Homo sapiens: one gene and its partners. The protein of the gene in region 3 interacts with the protein of the main gene of each other region in a biochemical or structural test. Each region holds a gene or a part of one and is shown on either strand. Other genes may lie near its edges. The genes, in order: CCND2, TRIP12, CDKN2A and NPM1.

Evidence for each region.
Region 1: the proteins of CDKN2A (region 3) and CCND2 form a complex in vitro, tested with the Homo sapiens proteins (2 studies listed by BioGRID).
Region 2: the proteins of CDKN2A (region 3) and TRIP12 form a complex in vitro, tested with the Homo sapiens proteins (2 studies listed by BioGRID).
Region 4: the proteins of CDKN2A (region 3) and NPM1 form a complex in vitro, tested with the Homo sapiens proteins (3 studies listed by BioGRID).

What each region holds. Positions count from the first base shown.
Region 1 is NC_000012.12:4,297,761-4,304,794, forward strand, and holds part of CCND2 (G1/S-specific cyclin-D2), read left to right. Parts: intron 1-2,099; coding exon 2,100-2,249; 3' UTR 2,250-7,034. UniProt on the Homo sapiens protein: Regulatory component of the cyclin D2-CDK4 (DC) complex that phosphorylates and inhibits members of the retinoblastoma (RB) protein family including RB1 and regulates the cell-cycle during G(1)/S transition.
Region 2 is NC_000002.12:229,792,992-229,800,025, reverse strand, and holds part of TRIP12 (E3 ubiquitin-protein ligase TRIP12), read left to right. Parts: intron 1-642; coding exon 643-743; intron 744-976; coding exon 977-1,151; intron 1,152-2,194; coding exon 2,195-2,336; intron 2,337-3,243; coding exon 3,244-3,435; intron 3,436-4,695; coding exon 4,696-4,847; intron 4,848-6,880; coding exon 6,881-7,034. UniProt on the Homo sapiens protein: E3 ubiquitin-protein ligase involved in ubiquitin fusion degradation (UFD) pathway and regulation of DNA repair.
Region 3 is NC_000009.12:21,967,252-21,971,891, reverse strand, and holds the end of CDKN2A (cyclin-dependent kinase inhibitor 2A), read left to right. Parts: intron 1-227; exon of another isoform or gene 228-563; intron 564-683; coding exon 684-990; intron 991-1,388; coding exon of another isoform or gene 1,389-1,486; exon of another isoform or gene 1,487-2,087; intron 2,088-2,098; coding exon of another isoform or gene 2,099-2,160; exon of another isoform or gene 2,161-2,311; intron 2,312-3,120; coding exon of another isoform or gene 3,121-3,167; exon of another isoform or gene 3,168-3,317; intron 3,318-3,649; coding exon 3,650-3,663; 3' UTR 3,664-4,140; downstream 4,141-4,640. UniProt on the Homo sapiens protein: Acts as a negative regulator of the proliferation of normal cells by interacting strongly with CDK4 and CDK6. This inhibits their ability to interact with cyclins D and to phosphorylate the retinoblastoma protein.
Region 4 is NC_000005.10:171,404,828-171,411,413, forward strand, and holds the end of NPM1 (nucleophosmin), read left to right. Parts: intron 1-474; coding exon 475-576; intron 577-1,569; coding exon of another isoform or gene 1,570-1,578; exon of another isoform or gene 1,579-2,298; intron 2,299-2,872; coding exon 2,873-2,947; intron 2,948-5,699; coding exon 5,700-5,738; 3' UTR 5,739-6,073; downstream 6,074-6,586. UniProt on the Homo sapiens protein: Involved in diverse cellular processes such as ribosome biogenesis, centrosome duplication, protein chaperoning, histone assembly, cell proliferation, and regulation of tumor suppressors p53/TP53 and ARF.

The DNA of each region.
Region 1 (7,034 bases), on a different chromosome or scaffold from region 3:
ACAGGTCGGACAGGGTAAGGGTAAGGGATGTAACCAGGAGATGCCACAGGAACGTCTGAGAGGTGTTAGCAAGTCCCAGAGGCCAGCGCCCGACTCCATTTCAGCCTCGTTCAGGGTGGCACGGAGACTCCTGCTGCTGCGTCACGTCTGTCATGTTCAGCACTCTTCCCAGACACACAGTCTTGACTAAAGATTGTCAGGATCTTGACACACGCTTCATTAGTCTTGACTAAATGCGAATCTATACCTCATTTCAAAGAAATCTGAATTCTTTAGGTTCCAGGACCAGTTTATTGTTATACATAATCACGATCATTTATTGAGCTCCACTTAGCACTGCACATATATCAGTATCATCTCAGTTGCCCTTTACTCTGATTATTTTGTGGGGAAACTGAGATCAGAAAAGTTAAATAACTTAGGTGCCACCTGCAAGTATAGTGGGTGGGCAGCAGATACCACCCTTCCTCATTTCATTGTTCCAGGTGATATTTCGTCTCTGCCTTTGGCCTTTAGTCTGTGGTTGTTCCTAATCTTAGTTTTCATTGAAAGCTGTAGTTTGAAATGTGGGATAGATGAGAGATAGGAAAGGAAAATTTAGGGGTATGGAAATTTTGTTCCTTAGTGGTTAGTTCCAGCTTTATTTTGTTTATTTATATGTTTGTTTTTAAAGATCGGGAGCTTGCTGTGTTGTCCAGGCTGGTATCGAACTCCTGGTTTCAGCTTCCCGCCTCAGCCTCCCAGAGTGCTGGGATTACAGGCATGAGCCAATATGCCTGGCCAGCTGTGTTTTAGATCTTTGGGAAATAAAGAGAATGCTTTTGGGCTTGGCAAAATAGAAACCTCTGGGTGGGGAGAATTGCACAGTAAAAGAAACAAAAGGGAAGTTTATATTAAACTATGAAAAGACACAGGGAGGTTCAATTTAACATATTTGCCTTATGTATGTGCTTCTTAAGAGAGTGCACAAAGGCACCTTTGCAGAGGAGAGAGGCTAGAAAATGCCCGTTAGAAGCAAGTCTACGGTTTGCACCCTCTTACTAGCACCAGCAACGGTCCCTGTCTAGTGATACCCATGACTTGTCATTGCATTGCATGTCATCTGCCTAAGAGAAGCTCCTGCCTGGGGCAGACACACTGTCAATTACCCCTACAATATAGACTGATACTAAAGCAAGGCTGCATATTCTTGCTTATTCCCAAATTGGATGGCTCAAGGTTCCAGAATGTTGTAGACATTCTGCATTATATCTTTATGAGAGTTAAGGAAATGGTAAAGAAGCAGAAAAAGTTGGGGATTTTTTTTTTTAAGTATTTACAGTGAGGCGCGGTGGCTCATGCCTGTAATCCCAGCACTTTGGGAGGCCGATGCGGGCGGATCACAAGGTCAGGAGTTCGAGGCCAGCCTGGCCAATATGGTGAAACCCTGTCTGTACTAAAAATACAAAAATTAGCCAGGCGCGGTGGCGGGTGCCTGTAGTCCCAGCTACTTGGGAGGCTGAGGCAGGAGAATCGCTTGAACCCGGAAGGTGGAGGTTGCAGTGAGCCGAGATTGTGCCAGTGCACTCCAGCCTGGGGGACAGAGTGAGAAAAAGTATTTACAGTTTATGTGAGGGTCAGTACGTTGGTTCATTGGCTTCCTTCTTATCTAGTTCTCGGGCTGAGTTTGCTAATGTCATAGCACTTCTAGTAGCCTTCCCCTTTTCTCTGCCACTTCCCAGCTTCCCCAGGCAGAAAGCATCTGGTCGGCCCCTTGATTACCAGGCATCCATAAGTGACCATCATTTAGGCCAGTGCTTCTCAGAATGCCAATCACCTGGGCTCCACTAAAAGGCAGGTTCTGAATAGCTCGGCCTGGGTTGACTGAGATTCTGCGGTTCCAACAAGCTCGCAGGTGATGCTGATGCTGCCAGCCCATGGACCCCACCTGGAGTAGTGAGGTTCCTTGGCACTTTAAGAACATCCCTCCTTTACTTCACATTTATTTCTACTGGAAACTAGCACAGACTTATGCAAGCTAAATTACGCATGTTTTCTCCGTAGGATGCTCTATGTCCTGTTCCTCTTACTAACAACTCTGGTCTGGACCATTGTTCTAGGATTGTCTCAAAGCTTGCCAGGAGCAGATTGAGGCGGTGCTCCTCAATAGCCTGCAGCAGTACCGTCAGGACCAACGTGACGGATCCAAGTCGGAGGATGAACTGGACCAAGCCAGCACCCCTACAGACGTGCGGGATATCGACCTGTGAGGATGCCAGTTGGGCCGAAAGAGAGAGACGCGTCCATAATCTGGTCTCTTCTTCTTTCTGGTTGTTTTTGTTCTTTGTGTTTTAGGGTGAAACTTAAAAAAAAAATTCTGCCCCCACCTAGATCATATTTAAAGATCTTTTAGAAGTGAGAGAAAAAGGTCCTACGAAAACGGAATAATAAAAAGCATTTGGTGCCTATTTGAAGTACAGCATAAGGGAATCCCTTGTATATGCGAACAGTTATTGTTTGATTATGTAAAAGTAATAGTAAAATGCTTACAGGAAAACCTGCAGAGTAGTTAGAGAATATGTATGCCTGCAATATGGGAACAAATTAGAGGAGACTTTTTTTTTTCATGTTATGAGCTAGCACATACACCCCCTTGTAGTATAATTTCAAGGAACTGTGTACGCCATTTATGGCATGATTAGATTGCAAAGCAATGAACTCAAGAAGGAATTGAAATAAGGAGGGACATGATGGGGAAGGAGTACAAAACAATCTCTCAACATGATTGAACCATTTGGGATGGAGAAGCACCTTTGCTCTCAGCCACCTGTTACTAAGTCAGGAGTGTAGTTGGATCTCTACATTAATGTCCTCTTGCTGTCTACAGTAGCTGCTACCTAAAAAAAGATGTTTTATTTTGCCAGTTGGACACAGGTGATTGGCTCCTGGGTTTCATGTTCTGTGACATCCTGCTTCTTCTTCCAAATGCAGTTCATTGCAGACACCACCATATTGCTATCTAATGGGGAAATGTAGCTATGGGCCATAACCAAAACTCACATGAAACGGAGGCAGATGGAGACCAAGGGTGGGATCCAGAATGGAGTCTTTTCTGTTATTGTATTTAAAAGGGTAATGTGGCCTTGGCATTTCTTCTTAGAAAAAAACTAATTTTTGGTGCTGATTGGCATGTCTGGTTCACAGTTTAGCATTGTTATAAACCATTCCATTCGAAAAGCACTTTGAAAAATTGTTCCCGAGCGATAGATGGGATGGTTTATGCAAGTCATGCTGAATACTCCTCCCCTCTTCTCTTTTGCCCCCTCCCTTCCTGCCCCCAGTCTGGGTTACTCTTCGCTTCTGGTATCTGGCGTTCTTTGGTACACAGTTCTGGTGTTCCTACCAGGACTCAAGAGACACCCCTTCCTGCTGACATTCCCATCACAACATTCCTCAGACAAGCCTGTAAACTAAAATCTGTTACCATTCTGATGGCACAGAAGGATCTTAATTCCCATCTCTATACTTCTCCTTTGGACATGGAAAGAAAAGTTATTGCTGGTGCAAAGATAGATGGCTGAACATCAGGGTGTGGCATTTTGTTCCCTTTTCCGTTTTTTTTTTTTTATTGTTGTTGTTAATTTTATTGCAAAGTTGTATTCAGCGTACTTGAATTTTTCTTCCTCTCCACTTCTTAGAGGCATTCAGTTAGCAAAGAGGTTGGAGCAACAACTTTTTTTTTTTTTTTTGCACAATTGTAATTGACAGGTAATGAAGCTATTTGTTAAAATATTTGCCTTTTTAAGTAAAAAAGAAAAATCAGAACAGGGCTATTTGAAGAATTATTTTATACACAGATTCTGCCTTGTTTCATAGTATGAGGGTTGAAGACGGAAAACAATCTAAGGGTCTCTCATTTTTTTAATTTTGTTTTGTTCAGTTTGGTTTTTTTTTTTTTTTGCGCTGCTAAGAAGCTAAAGTCATCCATCCTTATTCACGTTGACAGTACCTAGCTGTAATGTTTCACAGAGTGTGCTGCTATTTTATAAACATTTTTATAATATATTATTTTACTGCTTAAATTCCAAGTCCTGAAGTAGATGGTTGAGATATGAGTTCTTCGTACTGGAAAAGCCCTTCCGTAGTTTGTTTTCTTCTGGTAGCATATTCATGGTTGTTTTTTTTTTTCTTTTTTGGTTTTTTGGTTTTTTTTTTTTCCTCTGATCACATTCTTCAAAGACGGAGTATTCTTTACCTCAGGTTTACTGGACAAAATCAATAACTACAAAAGGCAATGATTCACGCTTTTGTTTTCATAATACCTCACAACCGTACAGTTTCTGCTTGGGAGCCCATTCGCATGAGGAATACAGAAGCAGTGTGAGCAGGGCTGACTCCCTCTCAGGTGGAAGGCAGGGCGGTCTCACTCCCAGGGACCTTTTTGGTCATGGAGGCCATCGGGCTCCCAGTTAGACCCTGGTATCCTCATCATGATGGAAAAAATACATTGAACCAAGGGATCCTCCCTCCCCTTCAAGGCAGACGTTCAGTACAAACATTTATGCGGTAGGCTCAGATGTCGTAATTTGCACTTAGGTACCAGGTGTCAGGAAACAGACTAAAAAGAATTCCACCAGGCTGTTTGGAGATCCTCATCTTGGAGCTTTTTCAAAAGCGGGGCTTCATCTGCAAAGGGCCCTTTCATCTTGAAGTTTTTCCCCTCCGTCTTTCCCCTCCCCTGGCATGGACACCTTGTGTTTAGGATCATCTCTGCAGGTTTCCTAGGTCTGAATCTGCGAGTAGATGAACCTGCAGCAAGCAGCGTTTATGGTGCTTCCTTCTCCCTCCTCTGTCTCAAACTGCGCAGGCAAGCACTATGCAAGCCCAGGCCCTCTGCTGAGCGGTACTAAACGGTCGGGTTTTCAATCACACTGAATTGGCAGGATAAGAAAAATAGGTCAGATAAGTATGGGATGATAGTTGAAGGGAGGTGAAGAGGCTGCTTCTCTACAGAGGTGAAATTCCAGATGAGTCAGTCTCTTGGGAAGTGTGTTTAGAAGGGTTCAGGACTTTGTGAGTTAGCATGACCCTAAAATTCTAGGGGATTTCTGGTGGGACAATGGGTGGTGAATTCTGAAGTTTTGGAGAGGGAAGTGGAGCAGCCAGCAAGTAAGCTAGCCAGAGTTTTCTCAAGAGCCAGCTTTGCTCAGCACACTCTCCTGGGCCCCAAGGAGTCCCACGGAATGGGGAAAGCGGGAACCCTGGAGTTCTTGGGAATCTTGGAGCCTAAAGAGAAACCGAGGTGCAAATTCATTTCATGGTGACTGACCCTTGAGCTTAAACAGAAGCAGCAAATGAAAGAACCGGACAAATAAGGAAGGGCACAAGCCTACCCGACTCTATTTACAGTCTGTAACTTTCCACTCTTCCTGTAGTCCCGAGGCCCCTGGGTCCTTCTAGCTTTTCTCTTTCCCATCCTTGGGGCCTTGTGTGATGATGGGTGTGGGGCTGCCGATGGGAAAGTCGGGGGTTGTTAGGCTTTTCTGCCTGCTCCTGCTTAAACACAAGAAGGAATCCTGGATTTTGCCCTCTCCTTAGCTCTTAGTCTCTTTGGTAGGAGTTTTGTTCCAGAGGAGCTCTCCCCCTTGGATTTGAACTTGCTCTTTTTGTTGTTGTTGTTCTTTCTCTTCTTTTTCTTACCTCCCACTAAAGGGGTTCCAAATTATCCTGGTCTTTTTCTACCTTGTTGTGTTTCTATCTCGTCTTTACTTCCATCTGTTTGTTTTTTTCTCCATCAGTGGGGGCCGAGTTGTTCCCCCAGCCTGCCAAATTTTGATCCTTCCCCTCTTTTGGCCAAATCCTAGGGGGAAGAAATCCTAGTATGCCAAAAATATATGCTAAGCATAATTAAACTCCATGCGGGTCCATAACAGCCAAGAAGCCTGCAGGAGAAAGCCAAGGGCAGTTCCCTCCGCAGAACACCCCATGCGTGCTGAGAGGCGAGCTCCTTGAAGAAGGGGCTGTTCTTCCAGGAGGCCTTATTTTGAACTGCCTCAGGACCCCACTGGAGAGCACAGCATGCCTTACTACTGGGTCATCCTTGGTCTATGTGCTCTGTACTGGAGGCTCTGTTCTGCCTCTTATCAGCCAGGTCAGGGGCACACATGGCTTAAGTGACAAAGCCAGAGGAGAAGACAACCCTGACAGCATCACGCTGCATCCCATTGCTAGCAGGATTGGCAACTCTTCAGACGGAGCTGCGCTTCCCTGCAGTCTAGCACCTCTAGGGCCTCTCCAGACTGTGCCCTGGGAGCTCTGGGACTGAAAGGTTAAGAACATAAGGCAGGATCAGATGACTCTCTCCAAGAGGGCAGGGGAATTTTCTCTCCATGGGCCACAGGGGACAGGGCTGGGAGAAGAAATAGACTTGCACCTTATGTCATGTAAATAATTGATTTTCTAGTTCAAGAAGATAATATTGGTAGTGTGGGAATTGGAGGTAGGAAGGGGAGGAAGTCTGAGTAAGCCAGTTGGCTTCTAAGCCAAAAGGATTCCTCTTTGTTTATCTCTGAGACAGTCCAACCTTGAGAATAGCTTTAAAAGGGAAATTAATGCTGAGATGATAAAGTCCCCTTAAGCCAACAAACCCTCTGTAGCTATAGAATGAGTGCAGGTTTCTATTGGTGTGGACTCAGAGCAATTTACAAGAGCTGTTCATGCAGCCATCCATTTGTGCAAAATAGGGTAAGAAGATTCAAGAGGATATTTATTACTTCCTCATACCACATGGCTTTTGATGATTCTGGATTCTAAACAACCCAGAATGGTCATTTCAGGCACAACGATACTACATTCGTGTGTGTCTGCTTTTAAACTTGGCTGGGCTATCAGACCCTATTCTCGGCTCAGGTTTTGAGAAGCCATCAGCAAATGTGTACGTGCATGCTGTAGCTGCAGCCTGCATCCCTTCGCCTGCAGCCTACTTTGGGGAAATAAAGTGCCTTACTGACTGTAGCCATTACAGTATCCAATGTCTTTTGACAGGTGCCTGTCCT
Region 2 (7,034 bases), on a different chromosome or scaffold from region 3:
ATTTTGCTCCTTTGTGTTGCATATTTGCTTTATGTACTTATATACTACTATTTAAAGTGGAACACATAGAAAATTGATCAGTCATCTTATCTGGCTTTATGTTTCATAGTTCAGTATAGTTAAACAGCTAGTTATTTTCTGAATAATCATTTGCTGTGTCTGCACACCTCTAGAACATGACTGGCACAGAATTGGCATTAAATAATCACTAAACAAGAACATACCTTGTTATGACAGTATTTTTTTTTTTTTTGAGATGGAGTCTCACTATCTCCCAGGCTGGAGTGCAGTGGCGCTATCTCGGCTCACTGCAAGCTCCGCCTCCCGGGTTCACGCCATTCTCCTGCCTCAGCCTCCTCAGTAGCTGAGACTACAGGCGCCCGCCACCACGCCCGGCTAATTTTTGTATTTTTAGTAGAGATGGGGTTTCACCATGTTAGCCAGGATGGTCTTGATCTCCTGACCTCGTGATCTGCCCGCCTCGGCCTCCCAAAGTGCTGGGATTACAGGCGTGAGCCACCGCGCCCGGCCTGACAGTATTTTATTACTCCCTGTTTCTGCCATTTTAGTTTGCTTTTTCAGTGAGTGAAGATATAAAACAGTGGTAATTGCTAAACTTATCTCATATTTTCCCATGGACAGTCGATTAAGTGATGTTCTAAAGAGAAAACGACTGCCAAAACGAGGGCCAAGAAGGCCAAAGTACTCACCTCCAAGAGATGATGACAAAGTAGACAATCAAGGTAACCCCTTTGATGAAACTATGGGGAGGTAAAGGGGAGGGTGGTAGCAGGTGCAGAAATGTACTTTATTAAAACTGCCAGTAGCTCTTGAAGTATGCCTAAGTTTCCTGAGGACTAAGTGTTCTTAGTTCTTTCAGTTAATTAATCTGTTAAGACTGTGAATCTTAAAAATCAGTTGTTTTTCATCACTTAAACTAAAATGACTTAACTGTAGTTCTTTTTTCTTTTCATAGCTAAAAGCCCCACCACTACTCAGTCACCTAAATCTTCTTTCCTGGCAAGCTTGAATCCAAAAACATGGGGAAGGTTAAGTACACAGTCCAACAGCAACAACATTGAGCCAGCACGGACTGCGGGAGGTAGTGGCCTTGCCAGGGCTGCCTCAAAGGATACCATCTCCAATAATAGGTGAAGTGGGGGGAGTTTTATGTTTCTTCTATTCCCATATCAGAAAAACTTAAACATTATTTCAGCCAGTACGTTTATTGTGTGGAGACGATACATAGACACAGCACTTTAATTTGTTCTTAAAAGCATAGTTCAAGAATTAGGTAGTTTCTCAGTTTATGAACCCTGCATCTGGCTTTGTCCTAAGTTCCAGTCATGTGCTTTGAAACTCCTTCCAGCATACCTAGCTGAAAGTCTTATACGTTCAAAACCACATTGTATTCCTTGGGGAACCTCTTCCTCAGTTTTGTTCCAGACAAGGAAAAGCTGACATTTTCTGTCCACATTCTTCACATCTTTTATGATAAAATTTCTCTACCCATTACAATGGAACTTCAGGATTTTAGGGGAGAGCCTTTTTTTTTTTTTTTAAGTCCTTGGGACTTGTTTTATTTTTGGGTTCTGCATGTAGCATACCAACATGATTACTTCCCTCTGCAGATAAGAAATTTTAAAAGACCAAATGTCATTGAGAAAATAAACATGCTCTCTTTGGTTTTGTTGGTTGTTTTTCTTAATTTCAGTGTATAAAAATAATTAAGTGAATGGATTTCTGAAGCCATCAGCATTTGTAATTTAAGCAGCCGGGTCTTATTTGCCATAGCTTATTACATCCTTAATAGGCGCATGTTTCTGGTCTGTAAATCTTTACTTCAGCTCTCCAGGAAACACAAGTTAAGGATAATGCAGATATGTATGTACTTTAGGAAGTAAAGGGAACACTTAGGAAAGTGTTATATTGCAGGGTTCCAAAAAATTATTACACTTTGTTTACAATTCATGTAATGACCTGCAGTGTATTTTAAGTTTTTAAACAGTTCTCCAGGTGGTACATCGTAGCCCATTTTCAAAGTGAAAGTTAATTTGGTTATGGAATCTGGAGTTTTTAAACTGTAAGCATAGACCAGGATGAATTTTAAATGTAGCAGCTATTTGCCTTGATCAGAAGTTATATCCTTTCTACATACACTGGGACTTTAATATCTCCTTTTTGTTTCTTGTAGAGAAAAAATTAAAGGTTGGATTAAGGAGCAGGCACATAAATTTGTAGAACGTTATTTCAGTTCTGAGAATATGGATGGAAGCAACCCTGCATTGAATGTCCTTCAGAGACTTTGTGCTGCAACCGAACAACTCAACCTCCAGGTGCTGTGTCCAGTGCATTTTGCTGGTCTTTTTCAGTCTCTTCCCAGCATCTCCTGCTACTCTTTTCCTTCATGACTCTCTAGCTTCCTATGGATTTAGCTATCCTACATCGACTTTTACCTTATATACACCCTTGGTGCTGGCATTTCTTTTACTTATCCCTTGACTATCAGGATTCATCAGTCTGTATTAAATGTACTAGAAACCTCATCTTTGACTTTCTTTCCTTCACATCTCATCATTCTTGACAAATGAAGAAACTTCAGAAATGTCCTCACAAGCACATCTGTTTTCTAAGTCATCCTCAACTATAGGTATAGATGATAGGCCTTCCTTAGCCCCTCTCTTCACATGGGGTCTCAGAGTGGCAGGAGAGGCTAGAGGTTTACTAATAAGTGTTTTACGTTTCATCTGGTTCTCAGTTTTTGTTCTTATTTTTATTTTTATTTATTTATTTATTTTGATGTTTTTGATGTACCTTGAGCAGTTTTGGTAGTATGTTTTCCAAGAAATTGTTCATTTTGCTGAGACCTTAAATGTATTAATTTAAAGCCACACCTTGTATTCTTGATTCATCTTTCCATTCTGGTGTTATAGCCCCTTATTCTTCAGTTTTCTGTTCTCATCTTTTAAAATACTCTTTTTTAAAGAAAACTACATTGGTTGAATATGAAGATTTTCTTCTTATGTTATTATGGATTCCTGGTTTTCCTCATGAAATATTTAGTGTGTGTGTGTGTGTGTTTAAAATCATAATTTCCAAGGATTTACTAAGACTGTACCACTCCCCTGCCCTCTTTTTTAAGGGCGTTGAGAATATATTCATTTCCTTTTGAGGATATGTGAGTTGTGTATTTTTTAAGTGCTGCTTAAATCAATATAGAAATACTTTTCCTAACTCTTTCAGGTGGATGGTGGAGCTGAGTGCCTTGTAGAAATCCGTAGCATAGTCTCAGAGTCAGATGTTTCATCATTTGAAATCCAACATAGTGGATTTGTGAAGCAGCTGTTGCTTTATTTGACATCTAAAAGTGAAAAGGATGCTGTGAGCAGAGAGATCAGATTAAAGCGATTTCTTCATGTATTTTTTTCTTCTCCAGTAAGTTATCTAATAATGCCTGTGTATCTTTTAAGAATCAGTGCTCACTAATGCATATATTTTCATCTCAGTAATAATTTCCAGCAGGTCTTGGTCAAGACATTGAGGGAAAACTTCTAGGTTTTCACATAGTTGGAATCCTTCAACTTCTGTATATCAAAGTAAATAGTAAAACAATGAAATGGGGATTTAACAAAGCCCATGTCACTATTTCTATGATTGAAGTATCTTGAGTCTTTTTTGCTTGCAGGATGAGCCATTAATAGTAGTCTCTCACCTGTGAATGTATTTTACTTGCAATATTTGTTTTTAAATGTATTGAAGTTTGTATTAGTTCCTTTTAGTGAAACAGACATCTATAATAAGATAGAGGAGTTATATTTTCTTGTTTTGTACATAAAATACAGTTGTAACAGTTCCAATCAAGGGCGCTTAATGACCATTTATGTCACCGTTTATAATGTGGATTACAAAGCCACAGAGTGGCTCCCCTTCCTTCACTCTTAAGTGGGCCAGAGCAAGAGGGTAATCCTTGGATGCTGTTGACAGCATTCTCCTTGTTTTACAGTGGCTTAAAGAGAAGGCATCACTTGGAAACGTTCCCTATTATCTGTGTAATAGGGCTTAGCATAGCTCTCCTATGTATTAACACTATTTCACCATGCGCTTGCAGTCCTCAGAGGCATTTGAGCATTGCTTGTATTTTAACTTGTGAGTCAACCTAAAGCAAAGTTAGTATTTATTGGAGATTCATTAGAAGCGTGACAGTATTATGTATAGTTTTACAGCATACTTAAGATTATGTGCAATCTCTTTTCTGAAACCCCTGGAGTTTGGTCGGTTTCAAAGGTCCTACAGTGTGTAGTACATTAAAATTCCCAGCAGTTTCTGAATAGCACTGTATATTATATGCATTAAATATTTTTATAGCATAACATGAATATTCTTACTAAAATCAGATAAATAAAGACTGTAAATAGCCTTATGTCTGTTTGGATCAGATTTTGCCACCAAGTGACTTGTGTTTTCAGAGCCTTTGGATGTAGAGATTGTGAATACAGGATTGTGGGCTGTACAAAACAGTTGTCTTTATTGAAATAATTGACGTGGTAACATCGTTCAAACCAAATCTGCCATAAAAGATAAAGATGAATAGACAAATTATTCTCTTTTATAAAGCTGCTTATTAAATCTTCTCTTTGAGGAGACTTTTGTTTTGAAAAGGCTTTGTTTAACCTGTTTGTTTATTTATAACTTTAGCTTCCTGGAGAAGAGCCCATTGGAAGAGTGGAACCAGTGGGTAATGCACCTTTGTTGGCATTAGTTCACAAGATGAACAACTGCCTCAGCCAGATGGAACAATTTCCAGTCAAAGTACATGATTTCCCTAGTGGAAATGGGACAGGAGGCAGGTAAGGACCATTGCCTGGCTATACCCTTGCCACTGGAATTTGGTACTTAATTTCACTGAAGTAAGATGGCAAGAGGTCTGGTAAAGTCTTGATTGGCCCAGAAAACATTCAGCTGTAATGATGAAAGAAATTAAGCACTCTAAAGAATGAATCAAATGCTTTCTTATCTTTAAAATTATACCATATGCCTTAAACAGGATGCTTTATAAATATATAATCCAGTGATTGTATTTGTAACTTGTAATAGGCTTAGTTTTCCTTAAATTGATACACTTCAGCATACAAAACTTCCTTAAGAACTTTATGTTTAACTTCAGTAGGGATAAAAAATTTTTTGTGGCTGTGAGTAATGTTTACATTTTGAGCGATATGATTTATATGTAATATTAGTGGCTATAACTTTGTATTTTGATGGGGTCAAATGTTTGAAGTTTTACTAGTTTAATAAATATATATATTTTTAATGTAGTTTTAAGGACTCTTGAGGTGCTACAGGAAAGAATTGTTCTATGTTGTGGAATGTTACAAGTTTCATGGAATATTTTGACCGGAGGCCTAGAAAATAGGAAATTTGTTTGGTTTTTATTTATTTATTTATTTATTTATTTATTTTGGGACAGAGTCTTACTTTGTTGCCCAAGCCAAATTACACTAGTGTGAACATGGCTCACTGCAGCCTTGACCTCCTGGCTGAAGAGATCTTTCTGCCTCAGCCTGCCACGTAGCTGGGGCCACAGGCATGTGCCACCATGTTCCATTAATTTTTTTATTTTTTGTAGAGACGGGGTCTCACTTTGTTGCCCAGGCTGGTCTCAAACTCTTGGGCCCAAGTGATCCTCCTGCCTTGGCCTCCCAAAGTGCTGGGATTTCTGAGCCACCACACTCAGCCTAGTTTGGTTTTTAAATCCACATTTTGACGTTTTAAAAACATTTAAAAAACTTTGTTTGAATTAAAAACCATATGCATTTTTGAGTGATAAAGCAATCACATCATGGACTAGGGTTTCTTTTCTGCTTTGAAATTTAATGTAGTGTGTGGTATTCAGTTTTGATCGTTATGATTTCCTGGAGGAGTTCATGAAATAAGGGGGCATTTTGACCTGTGCTTGAGAAAATCATGAAGCTTTTTGTGTCCAAATTTATATAAAATATGTTTGCATATGTATATATTCATAAAATGGAATATTCTCCACATCCCTATTTGTGTGCTTTATGTGCAGGAGGGTCCAATCTTTTGGCTTCCCTGGGCTATATTGGAAGATGAATTGTCTTGGGCCACATAAAATACACCAACACTAATGTTAGTTGATGAGCTTAAAAAAAAAAAACACTCATTGTATTTTAAGAAAGTTTACGAATTTATGTTGGCCTATATACAAAGCCATCTGGGCTGCATGTGGCCTGTGGGCCGCAGGTTGGACAAGCTTGCTTTGTGGAATCATACAGATAATCACAGTTTAAGTTTGTATCTGACTCCTGCCAGAGCTTTTCTGAAATGAGCAATTAAACATCATGACCAGGTTTCAACTGCAGTAGCTATTAAACCGCTTCGTTCAAAACTATTATAGCAAGGTAAATTTTAAAGGTTAGTTTTTAATGTAATATTGTAGCTGAAATCTTTGAAATAAAGAGTTTTTTTTTTCTTTTTAAAAAATATAATTCAATAGGAATGGGCAAAATATTGCAGAAGTGAGTGTGCTTAAATAGTTCAGGAATTTTTGTTCCAGAAAAATAATTAAATATTCATGGGTGAAGTATTTCTGCTCCCATGGATTTATGATGGGACAGAGATCAAATATTGACTTAAGGTTTTCATATGCATGCATACACATCCGTCTTTTATTTCTTACGTATAAAAATTTTTTCTAAATAACTTGAATTATTGGCTTTACCATTCACAGAACTGGTAAGTAAATGCTTAGTACTAGTGTGTCTTATGAAAATGCAGTTTGTATTAACTTGCCTTTATTTGAATTAATGTATATTAAATGTGAAAATAATAGACTAACTTTTTTTTCACAAATTATCTTGAGCTTTTCTCTCAACAGAGGATCACAGGCTTTAAAATTTTTCAACACACATCAATTAAAATGCCAGTTACAAAGGCATCCAGACTGTGCAAATGTGAAGCAGTGGAAGGGTGGACCTGTCAAGATTGACCCTCTGGCTTTGGTACAAGCCATCGAG
Region 3 (4,640 bases):
TGCTCTCATTTGACAAAAATGTCAAATATTTGAGATGATGGATAGGTTACTTAGCTTGACTTAATAATTCCCCATTGTGTTCAAAGATCATAACTTCATATTGTACCACATAAATATATACAACTGTACTATCCCAATATATAATTTTAAAACTAATATAATGAAAAAGAAATTGAAGTTCAACATTCCCAGAAGCTAAGTGTAACTTAAAAGTTTTGTGAGAATTTGTTTTAACAAACAAACAAGTTTTCTCTTTTTAACAATTACCACATTCTGCGCTTGGATATACAGCAGTGAACAAAAAAAAAAAAAAAAATCTCCAGGCCTAACATAATTTCAGGAAGAAATTTCAGTAGTTGTATCTCAGGGGAAATACAGGAAGTTAGCCTGGAGTAAAAGTCAGTCTGTCCCTGCCCCTTTGCTATTTTGCCCGTGCCTCACAGTGCTCTCTGCCTGTGACGACAGCTCCGCAGAAGTTCGGAGGATATAATGGAATTCATTGTGTACTGAAGAATGGATAGAGAACTCAAGAAGGAAATTGGAAACTGGAAGCAAATGTAGGGGTAATTAGACACCTGGGGCTTGTGTGGGGGTCTGCTTGGCGGTGAGGGGGCTCTACACAAGCTTCCTTTCCGTCATGCCGGCCCCCACCCTGGCTCTGACCATTCTGTTCTCTCTGGCAGGTCATGATGATGGGCAGCGCCCGAGTGGCGGAGCTGCTGCTGCTCCACGGCGCGGAGCCCAACTGCGCCGACCCCGCCACTCTCACCCGACCCGTGCACGACGCTGCCCGGGAGGGCTTCCTGGACACGCTGGTGGTGCTGCACCGGGCCGGGGCGCGGCTGGACGTGCGCGATGCCTGGGGCCGTCTGCCCGTGGACCTGGCTGAGGAGCTGGGCCATCGCGATGTCGCACGGTACCTGCGCGCGGCTGCGGGGGGCACCAGAGGCAGTAACCATGCCCGCATAGATGCCGCGGAAGGTCCCTCAGGTGAGGACTGATGATCTGAGAATTTGTACCCTGAGAGCTTCCAAAGCTCAGAGCATTCATTTTCCAGCACAGAAAGTTCAGCCCGGGAGACCAGTCTCCGGTCTTGCCTCAGCTCACGCGCCAATCGGTGGGACGGCCTGAGTCTCCCTATCGCCCTGCCCCGCCAGGGCGGCAAATGGGAAATAATCCCGAAATGGACTTGCGCACGTGAAAGCCCATTTTGTACATTATACTTCCCAAAGCATACCACCACCCAAACACCTACCCTCTGCTAGTTCAAGGCCTAGACTGCGGAGCAATGAAGACTCAAGAGGCTAGAGGTCTAGTGCCCCCTCTTCCTCCAAACTAGGGCCAGTTGCATCCACTTACCAGGTCTGTTTCCTCATTTGCATACCAAGCTGGCTGGACCAACCTCAGGATTTCCAAACCCAATTGTGCGTGGCATCATCTGGAGATCTCTCGATCTCGGCTCTTCTGCACAACTCAACTAATCTGACCCTCCTCAGCTAATCTGACCCTCCGCTTTATGCGGTAGAGTTTTCCAGAGCTGCCCCAGGGGGTTCTGGGGACATCAGGACCAAGACTTCGCTGACCCTGGCAGTCTGTGCACCGGAGTTGGCTCCTTTCCCTCTTAAACTTGTGCAAGAGATCGCTGAGCGATGAAGGTAGAATTATGGTCCTCCTTGCCCTTGCCTTTCCTTTTTGTGATCTCAAAGCATCCTCCCTCCGCCCCCATTCCATGGCCCCAGTTCCCTACTCCCACAGCTGTCTGCTGAAACTGCCAACATTACTCAATTGTTTCTGGGGGGAGGAACATTTTTTTTTGAAACAAAATAGATATATGAAACAGTACACGGGAATTAACACGAATATTTAAGGTAAAACATGACCTTGAAGATTATGAAATCCATCTTATTTTGGCCCAGAACGGGGGCATTGGGCTCCTTGGGCCATAGGGGAGCTGGGGAGGACAGGGTGAAGAGTTAGCTCTAAGCCCTCTGCTTGGAGATGCTGTAAATACAGAACGCAAAATCACCTTCGAAGTTAAAGACGCGAAGTTCTTCTTTACTCGGCCCCTCCTCCCCTCCCCCCCGCCAATTCCCTCCAGTTACAGCTAGCATCCAGGTCCCGGGAGGTGAAGAAGGAGACTTCGGCTCCAGTTACAGCTAGCATCCGGGTCCCGATTTAGAAGGAGCTGCCAATTACAGCGCGGTTCCAGGGCTGAGCAAAAAGCCTGAGGAGCCAAGTGGGAGAGGGAGTAAAACTACTGAATTGGGCCACAAGCAAATGAATAAACTGAACGACTCTTAACCAAACCTAATATATTTAATCCAAACACACAAGTCTTTCATTTCTTCCCTCCTCCCTTCCTTCTCTTACTCCCCAACACCCCCTCTTCAAGCACAATTAATTATATGGTTAGATTCTACTGCGTGATCAGCCCTGTTCTAGGTGGTGGGCACGCCAAGGTGAATGAGACCAAACAAGAGTCTTGCCCTCATGGGGTTTACATTTGGAGACAGAGTCGATCTGTTGCCCAACCTGGAGTGCAGTGGCGCGATCACAGCTCACTGCAGCCTCAAACTCCCTGGCTCAAGGGGTTCTCCCACCTGAGCCTCCCGACTAGCTGGGACCACAGGTGCACGCCACGACGCCTGGGTTTGTTTGTTTGTTTAATAGAGACGAAGGTCTCACCATGTTATCTGGGCTCAAGCGATCATCCCCCCTCCTCCTCCTAAAGTACTGGGATTACAGTCCCAAGCTATCTTGCCCGACCTGGGAAACAGACGTTAAGGAAGATAACAATCTATTTTCAGAGAGCGAGTTTATAAAACCAATGCAATGGGTAAATATGAAGTGTGAATAGGAGGAGAAGCTAAAGAGTGGTCGGAGAATCTAATGCAAGCTACGGGAGAAAGAAACTCAAGTGCAAATGCTGCCTCAGGAATAAACGTAAAAAGAGACTTTCAAGTGCAAATGCTCCCTCAGGAATAAAATAATCTTGAGACTCTCAAGTGTAAATGCTGCCTCGGGAGAACCGAACGGCGAGCTGGAGCCCATACGCAACGAGATTAGAGAGGAAGGCAGAAGCCAGAGCACATGAATAAATGAGCATCCATTTTGTTTCAGAAATGATCGGAAACCATTTGTGGGTTTGTAGAAGCAGGCATGCGTAGGGAAGCTACGGGATTCCGCCGAGGAGCGCCAGAGCCTGAGGCGCCCTTTGGTTATCGCAAGCTGGCTGGCTCACTCCGCACCAGGTGCAAAAGATGCCTGGGGATGCGGGAAGGGAAAGGCCACATCTTCACGCCTTCGCGCCTGGCATTGTGAGCAACCACTGAGACTCATTATATAACACTCGTTTTCTTCTTGCAACCCTGCGGGCCGCGCGGTCGCGCTTTCTCTGCCCTCCGCCGGGTGGACCTGGAGCGCTTGAGCGGTCGGCGCGCCTGGAGCAGCCAGGCGGGCAGTGGACTAGCTGCTGGACCAGGGAGGTGTGGGAGAGCGGTGGCGGCGGGTACATGCACGTGAAGCCATTGCGAGAACTTTATCCATAAGTATTTCAATGCCGGTAGGGACGGCAAGAGAGGAGGGCGGGATGTGCCACACATCTTTGACCTCAGGTTTCTAACGCCTGTTTTCTTTCTGCCCTCTGCAGACATCCCCGATTGAAAGAACCAGAGAGGCTCTGAGAAACCTCGGGAAACTTAGATCATCAGTCACCGAAGGTCCTACAGGGCCACAACTGCCCCCGCCACAACCCACCCCGCTTTCGTAGTTTTCATTTAGAAAATAGAGCTTTTAAAAATGTCCTGCCTTTTAACGTAGATATATGCCTTCCCCCACTACCGTAAATGTCCATTTATATCATTTTTTATATATTCTTATAAAAATGTAAAAAAGAAAAACACCGCTTCTGCCTTTTCACTGTGTTGGAGTTTTCTGGAGTGAGCACTCACGCCCTAAGCGCACATTCATGTGGGCATTTCTTGCGAGCCTCGCAGCCTCCGGAAGCTGTCGACTTCATGACAAGCATTTTGTGAACTAGGGAAGCTCAGGGGGGTTACTGGCTTCTCTTGAGTCACACTGCTAGCAAATGGCAGAACCAAAGCTCAAATAAAAATAAAATAATTTTCATTCATTCACTCATTTATTGTCAACATTTATTGAGCACCTATTACAACAATTTCATCGCATGGAAGACAGCATCGTTTCTGACACTGTTGTTTCATGTATCTCTTAGAAAAACGCTGCTATTAGACATCTAACACTATTTATCTTGAGGTGATAAAATATCAAAAGCCGTGTCTCAAGATCGATGAAATGCGGTTAAAATGATGAATAGAAACTCTAGGGGGACCTCATATCGATAGACTCGAGACTGGCACATCTGGAGATCCGTATTTATCCGGCTTCCCCTTCCAGATCACGCGAGGTTTGGGATATTTTGCTCACCAGGCCTCAGCCAGGTAACTGAATCCAGCCAACCCTGGCCCATAGTCTCGGAATCCGACTCGGCTCCCAGTCCCCGCCTCGGCGTTCTGAGACCCCCAGGCTGGGGTTCCAGAGGGCTGTGAGGTTGCGAATGACTGCTGCCAAACCGGAAGGAACTCTGCGGTTCTCTGCCACAGTGGGATTGTTGCAGGCAC
Region 4 (6,586 bases), on a different chromosome or scaffold from region 3:
CACTCCAGCCTGGGCACCATTGAGCACTGAGTGAACGAGACTCTGTCTGCCCTGATTTCCTTTTTTGAACTGACTTAGTACTGTGCATAAAAGCAAACTCCCAAGTTACTCTTTTTTTTTTTATTTAAAGAGATGGGTGGCCTACTCTTGCCCAGGTTGAAGTACAGTGGTATGATCATAGCTCACTACAGCCTCCAGCTGCTGGGCTTAAGCAATCCTCCTGCCTTAGCCTCCTGAGTAGCTGGGATTACAGGCATGCACCACCATGCCTAGCTAATCATCTTATTCCTTCCTTAAAGGAAAGATTTTAAGAACAAAATTATATGGCGTGAATTTATTGATGATAATTCCAGTTGTATAATTAGCTTTATAAGGGAGTTTTGTGAGAATATTTGAGGAAATCCAGATAGAATGGGTTTTAATTAGGAATTGTATTTATTCTTATGACCTTTTGGAAATTCATTTCTTTTTCAGGGACAAGAATCCTTCAAGAAACAGGAAAAAACTCCTAAAACACCAAAAGGACCTAGTTCTGTAGAAGACATTAAAGCAAAAATGCAAGCAAGTATAGAAAAAGTGAGTAAAGTTATCTTAAAAAAACTTTGTCTCCCCCCTCAAATTGCACGTGTCTGGTTTGCATAGACTTGAATGTTTCTTGTTTTTTTGTTTGTTTTGGTTTAATATACTTGCCTGGTTCGTGGTATGAATTTTTTCAAAAATTTCTTATAAAACATTTATAATCGTGTCTGTGGTGATTTTTGCATATGCAAAATTAAATATGCCTTATTTTCCATTATGCAAGGAACGTAGTGCACTGGTTGCAAGATAACATTCTGACCTTCCATGTTAAAATAGATCAGTGAAAACCCTTTGCCTATTCTGGTTGTAAGATATGCTAGAGAACCAACAGAGGGCGTATGAGACTTCATTAAAATTACAAACAGCTGGAAAAGTAGATGCTGGCTGTTGCTTGGTATTATAGTTAATATTCATGATTGACCCTAGTCAGAAGTGATTTTCAGCAGATTGAGACATTTCTCTTTGCCCTTTACACCAAGTTGTCACCAGTTAATACATGTAGTAATAGCTAGATTTCGTGAATGACTAATAGGCTTAAATCTAGTTTCCTTTTGTCTTAAATAATGGAAATGTGGGAAGAGGGTTAGGTCTCTCATCTGCTTGACTGGGGGATTTGAGTAGGATATGGAATAAATGGTTTAAATGCCTTGGAAGCACATTTGAGAGAAGCTTTAATTCTATGAATAATACTTTTAGACTCCAACTATTGAGAGCAAATGTGGGGTGGTGAAAAATTGCCAACTCATTTCCCCATGTTTTTCTTGTAATCTATAGATTTTTCGTGGCTTCAGTAGATTCCTTGTACAGTGATAAGTCCACTGGAAAAAGAATTTTAGAACTGGAACATATTTCTTTTAGTCACACTGTAAACCCTTTAGCCTTCCTGGTTATCACTGATTTTTGTCCCTTGGATACAATGCTAAAATGACATCTTTTAGATGCCCCTCCCCTCCATTTTAATATGGTCCTATCTCCTTGGTTTAATTGCAGGCGCATTGAACAGTCCTGGGCACTACATGTAAATTAAGCCCAAAGATGGGGAGAAAGGAAAAGGAGAGACAAATATAGTCCATACTGAGTGTCATCAACAATCCAGACTGAAGTCTTCTATTTTAATCTCAATCCCCTTTTCTGATTTGCCACCCATGCCTCTTCAGGCTGGAAACAATCTCTTGGTTCCCTAAAGCACTTTCTTCTGACTGCTGTGATTCAGTGAACCTTGCCCTTTGCTTTCTATTACTTGTGCATTTGCCTCACCTGACAATGTTTTAAATCGCCTTTGTATCTCCTTAGCTGCTCAATAAATATTTGAATGCATCAATTAAGAATGTATGTGACAATAATTTTGAAATGGAAATTGTGAGGTTTATTTTACTAGGTTATTGGAGGCAGTTAAGTTTCTTAATGCTATACCTGATTCTGCCAAAGTCCCTTGGACATTTGAAAACCTTTTCAATCTTTTAAAAATGCATAAAAGATACTTAGAGGGAAAGGTATTAATTAAATTTAGTAAAAACAAATATATTCAATGCTTTAAATTCCAAAGTAGTGATAAATACAAACATTTCAAGATATTTGCAATAGTAATGTTTTGAAATTTTGGTTACAAAGTCACAGGTCTTGCCAATACTGTTGTAGTTTCTTGCCTATATCCGTAATTTGAAGGAAATGGTGAGAGTGATTAGAGAAGTGTAATTACTGTAATTTTTTCCCCTATTGTAGTTTCTTGCCTGTATCCATAATTTGAAGGAAATGGTAAGAGTGATTAGTGAAATGTAATTACTGTAATTTTTTCCCCATTCAACTTTATATATCTTTAACTGATGACCAGATCATTGTTGTTCTGAACCAGTTTGTGGTCAGCAAGTGTTTTGTGGGGTTTTGTTTGTTTGTTTTTAAAGAACAGTTTGGGTCACTTGACATGGTTCTCCAAAGGGATGTTATGGGTTGTATTTGGTTCTGGGTGATAACCGACTTGTTAGATAATTTAGATAAGCAACCGAGTTGCCATGTTTGTTTGTCGAATCTCAAGTGTAGCTTATATTTTATGTTCCTAGAGAGGTTGTCAGGGAAGATTTGACCCTTTGGCAAATCTGTTTGAATAGAGATACTAGCCATGCTGCCCAATAGGGCTTTCTGGCCCTGAAAAAGATACGGAGTATTCTTGGAAAGTTGAAGGGAAAAAGAATAAACTGATCCATGTAGTAGCATGCAGATTATTGAGGAATTTTCTAAAGGTATCTCTCTCGGTGTATTTCTCTACTTACCTGTAATAATGCTTTTGTCTTAATAGGGTGGTTCTCTTCCCAAAGTGGAAGCCAAATTCATCAATTATGTGAAGAATTGCTTCCGGATGACTGACCAAGAGGTAACTGGATTTTCTGGGGACATGATTAAATCCAAGTTTTTTTGTGATTTATTATGATTCTGCCTTTACCCTTTTTAAGTGTTGGCTCTTTTTAAAAAGTTCCTAACCACAGATAATATTTCATTTAATGAAATACCTGAAAACTCATGTATTTAATGAAATGCATGAAGAATACAGTTGGCAGTCTGAGATGATAACTTTAGTATATTTTTCCCAGATTTCCTATAGTTGGTAAATTATTTCTTGGTTATTGAATTCAGTTTTACTTTTTTGGTACTATGTTGGTTAAGGAAATTGCTGTGGTTTTCCTTGCTGTTCCATTTGACTGCTTGGGGCAGTCTGGTCTTGGCTTTTTTGGGAGTTGGTAGAGATCTTTTTTTTTTTTTTCCTAGATCTTATGGGAAATACATTATGCCAAAATCATCCTAACATGAAATCTGGAAGCAAGACACTAAATTGTGGCTACTACCAGATACATAAGCTTGAGTTAGCTGTTAGATTTTACAGTTAGTACATGTGAAAGTCTTAGTCAACATAAAGATTATGCATTTATTTTTGCTCTTATTTACAGTTGACTCATAAGTGTAAGGACAATGTAAAAGTGGTTAAATAGGGATGTTAGGTATCGTGTGGAGAACGGATGCTGCATTTAATGGTCTTTAGGTTTCCTGTGGTCAGCTTTTTTCAAAAAATTAGGAAAATTTGGCAATTAGCTGGTTTTTTTTCTGCCATAGTATTTTGCACTTCAATTATTTAATTGCACTTCAATTTTTAGTTTTCGGGTTCGTAAAACCCTGATAATGGTTAATTTTGAGTTTAGCTTTGTGAAAGTTGTAGTGATGGGCTATAAGATGATCAGGTTCAGTCTTTGGTTGCTGTTCTGTTTTTTCTCTACATTTGAATCCTAAAGTTTAAAGTGTGAGTTTTGGGAGTTTATTTGGAATACTAAACATTGATTAATCATAAATTATTTTGAAACTCCGCGTTATGCAACTGTTTATTTAATATTGAAAATAGTGGAAAGTCAGACATAAATAACCAGCATGTACTAACAGCTAAGCAGCATAAGAGATGCATTCTTCAACTACTGCCAAGGAAAGTGATGATAAATTTAATGATTAAGTTGCAGTAGTCTTCTGTACTTTATAACAAAGGCTTGTAGCTACAAAGTCTTGTAGCTATTAAATTACTGAACCAGCACTTCTACAAGAAGTATTTTCTTTTTATAAAAAGTATTTTTGGCCAGGTTGGTCTTGAACTCCTGGCCTCAAGCAGTCCTCCCATCTTTTCCTCCCAAAGTGCTAGGATTACAGGCACGAGCCACCTTGCCCAGCCTACCAGAAGTATTTTTTTGCTCTAGAATTGAAAGTGTTCTCAAGTGTCAGAATGAAATTTCTGGAATAAATAGTAAATGTTTAATAACTTGAACTTGAATTGCTGTTACAGAGATTATCAAAACTAAATGCTTCCTGTTTTTGACATAGAGATGCATGATGCAAGCAACGACAATGTATATTTGTTTGAACCTGATGATAAGATCTCTGGCTGGGCGTGGTAGTTCATGCCTATAATCCCAGCACTTTGGGAGGCAACATGGCAAAACTCTGTCTCTACTAAAAATACTAAATTTAGCTGGGCATGGTGGCATGTACCTGTAATCCCACCTACTCAAGAGGCGGAGGCAGGAGGATCGCTTGAACCTGGGAGGCAGAGGTTGCAGTGAGCGCCACTGCACTCCAGTCTGGGTGGCAGAGTGAGAGTCTATCTCAGAAAGAAAGATTTCTATGATATTTAATATTGGCATTCGGTATTCAGTTACCTTGTACCTGAGAACCCATTGGCTGTGAAACAGTGACAGCTGAGAGAATCCTGAGTCATCTCATTTCTAGTTCTTGGTGAACTTCTGGACTTTTCTTCAGAACCACCTTGCCATGTTGGCCAGGCTGGTCTTGAACTCCTGACCTCTCAGGTGATCCAACACCTTGGCCTCTTAAAGTGCTGGGATTACAGGCATGAGCCACCATGCCTGGCCAGCTGTTTTTTTTGTTGGTTTGTTTTTTGTTTTGGTACCCATCTGTAGTGTGATCTTGGCTCACTGCAACCTCTGCCTCTTGGGCTCAGGCAGTCCTCCCACCTCAGCCTCCTGAGTAGCTGGGCCTCCTGTAGTTGCACACCACCAAGCCTGGCTAATTTTTGCATTTTTAGTAGACAGGGTTTCACCATGTTGCCCAGGCTGGTCTCAAATTCCTGAGCTGAAGTGATCTGCCCGCCTCAGTCTCCCAAAGTGTAGGGATTACAGGCGTGAGCCACCATGCCTAGCCTCAGCATATAGTTTTTTCTAAATGTACACATGCCCAGGCACACATGCACAGGCAATTCAGAATAAGTTTCTGGTGTTTATGTAACTTTATTTGCCAAATCTGGCCAACTCTAAAGCTGATCTCGGGAGATGAAGTTGGAAGTAACATTGGCCATATGGGTCTCTGTTCTTTCTGTTGATTTCCTTAAGTAAATAATGCTAAACTATTAAATAATTATTAGTATATTGTTCACATTTTTATGACTGATTAAAGTGTTTGGAATTAAATTACATCTGAGTATAAATTTTCTTGGAGTCATATCTTTATCTAGAGTTAACTCTCTGGTGGTAGAATGAAAAATAGATGTTGAACTATGCAAAGAGACATTTAATTTATTGATGTCTATGAAGTGTTGTGGTTCCTTAACCACATTTCTTTTTTTTTTTTTCCAGGCTATTCAAGATCTCTGGCAGTGGAGGAAGTCTCTTTAAGAAAATAGTTTAAACAATTTGTTAAAAAATTTTCCGTCTTATTTCATTTCTGTAACAGTTGATATCTGGCTGTCCTTTTTATAATGCAGAGTGAGAACTTTCCCTACCGTGTTTGATAAATGTTGTCCAGGTTCTATTGCCAAGAATGTGTTGTCCAAAATGCCTGTTTAGTTTTTAAAGATGGAACTCCACCCTTTGCTTGGTTTTAAGTATGTATGGAATGTTATGATAGGACATAGTAGTAGCGGTGGTCAGACATGGAAATGGTGGGGAGACAAAAATATACATGTGAAATAAAACTCAGTATTTTAATAAAGTAGCACGGTTTCTATTGACTTATTTAACTGCTTTATACTTTGTCAAAGAAATAATTAATGTAGTTAGGAATGGCAAATAGTCTTGTAAAATTCTATGAGAATGTCCCTGCCCTCCCCTTCAATATTCTCTCTGGAGCTAACCACTTTTTCATCATAAGGATTTAGTGCTGTGTTCCCACCTCCTGATGATAGTTAACAATTATTATAACTATGCAACATGTTTCCAAATGTTCCATTAGACCTCCTATCTGCCTATTCTAGCCTCACTTGCAAAGAAAATGTGGCATGTTAAAACAGCTTAAAAGCAGCCTTTCAACCTGTATGGTTTTTTCCCCTAGGCTGGAGTGCAGTGGCACAATCTCAGCTTATTGCAGCTTCTGCTTCTTGGGTTCAAGCAGGTCTCCTGCCTCAGCCTCCCAAGTAGCTGGGATTACAGGTGTGAGCCACCAGCCCGGCTAATTTTTGTATTTTTAGTAGAGATGGGGTTTCACCTTGTTGGCCAGGCTGGTCTCGAACTCCTGAGCTCAAGTG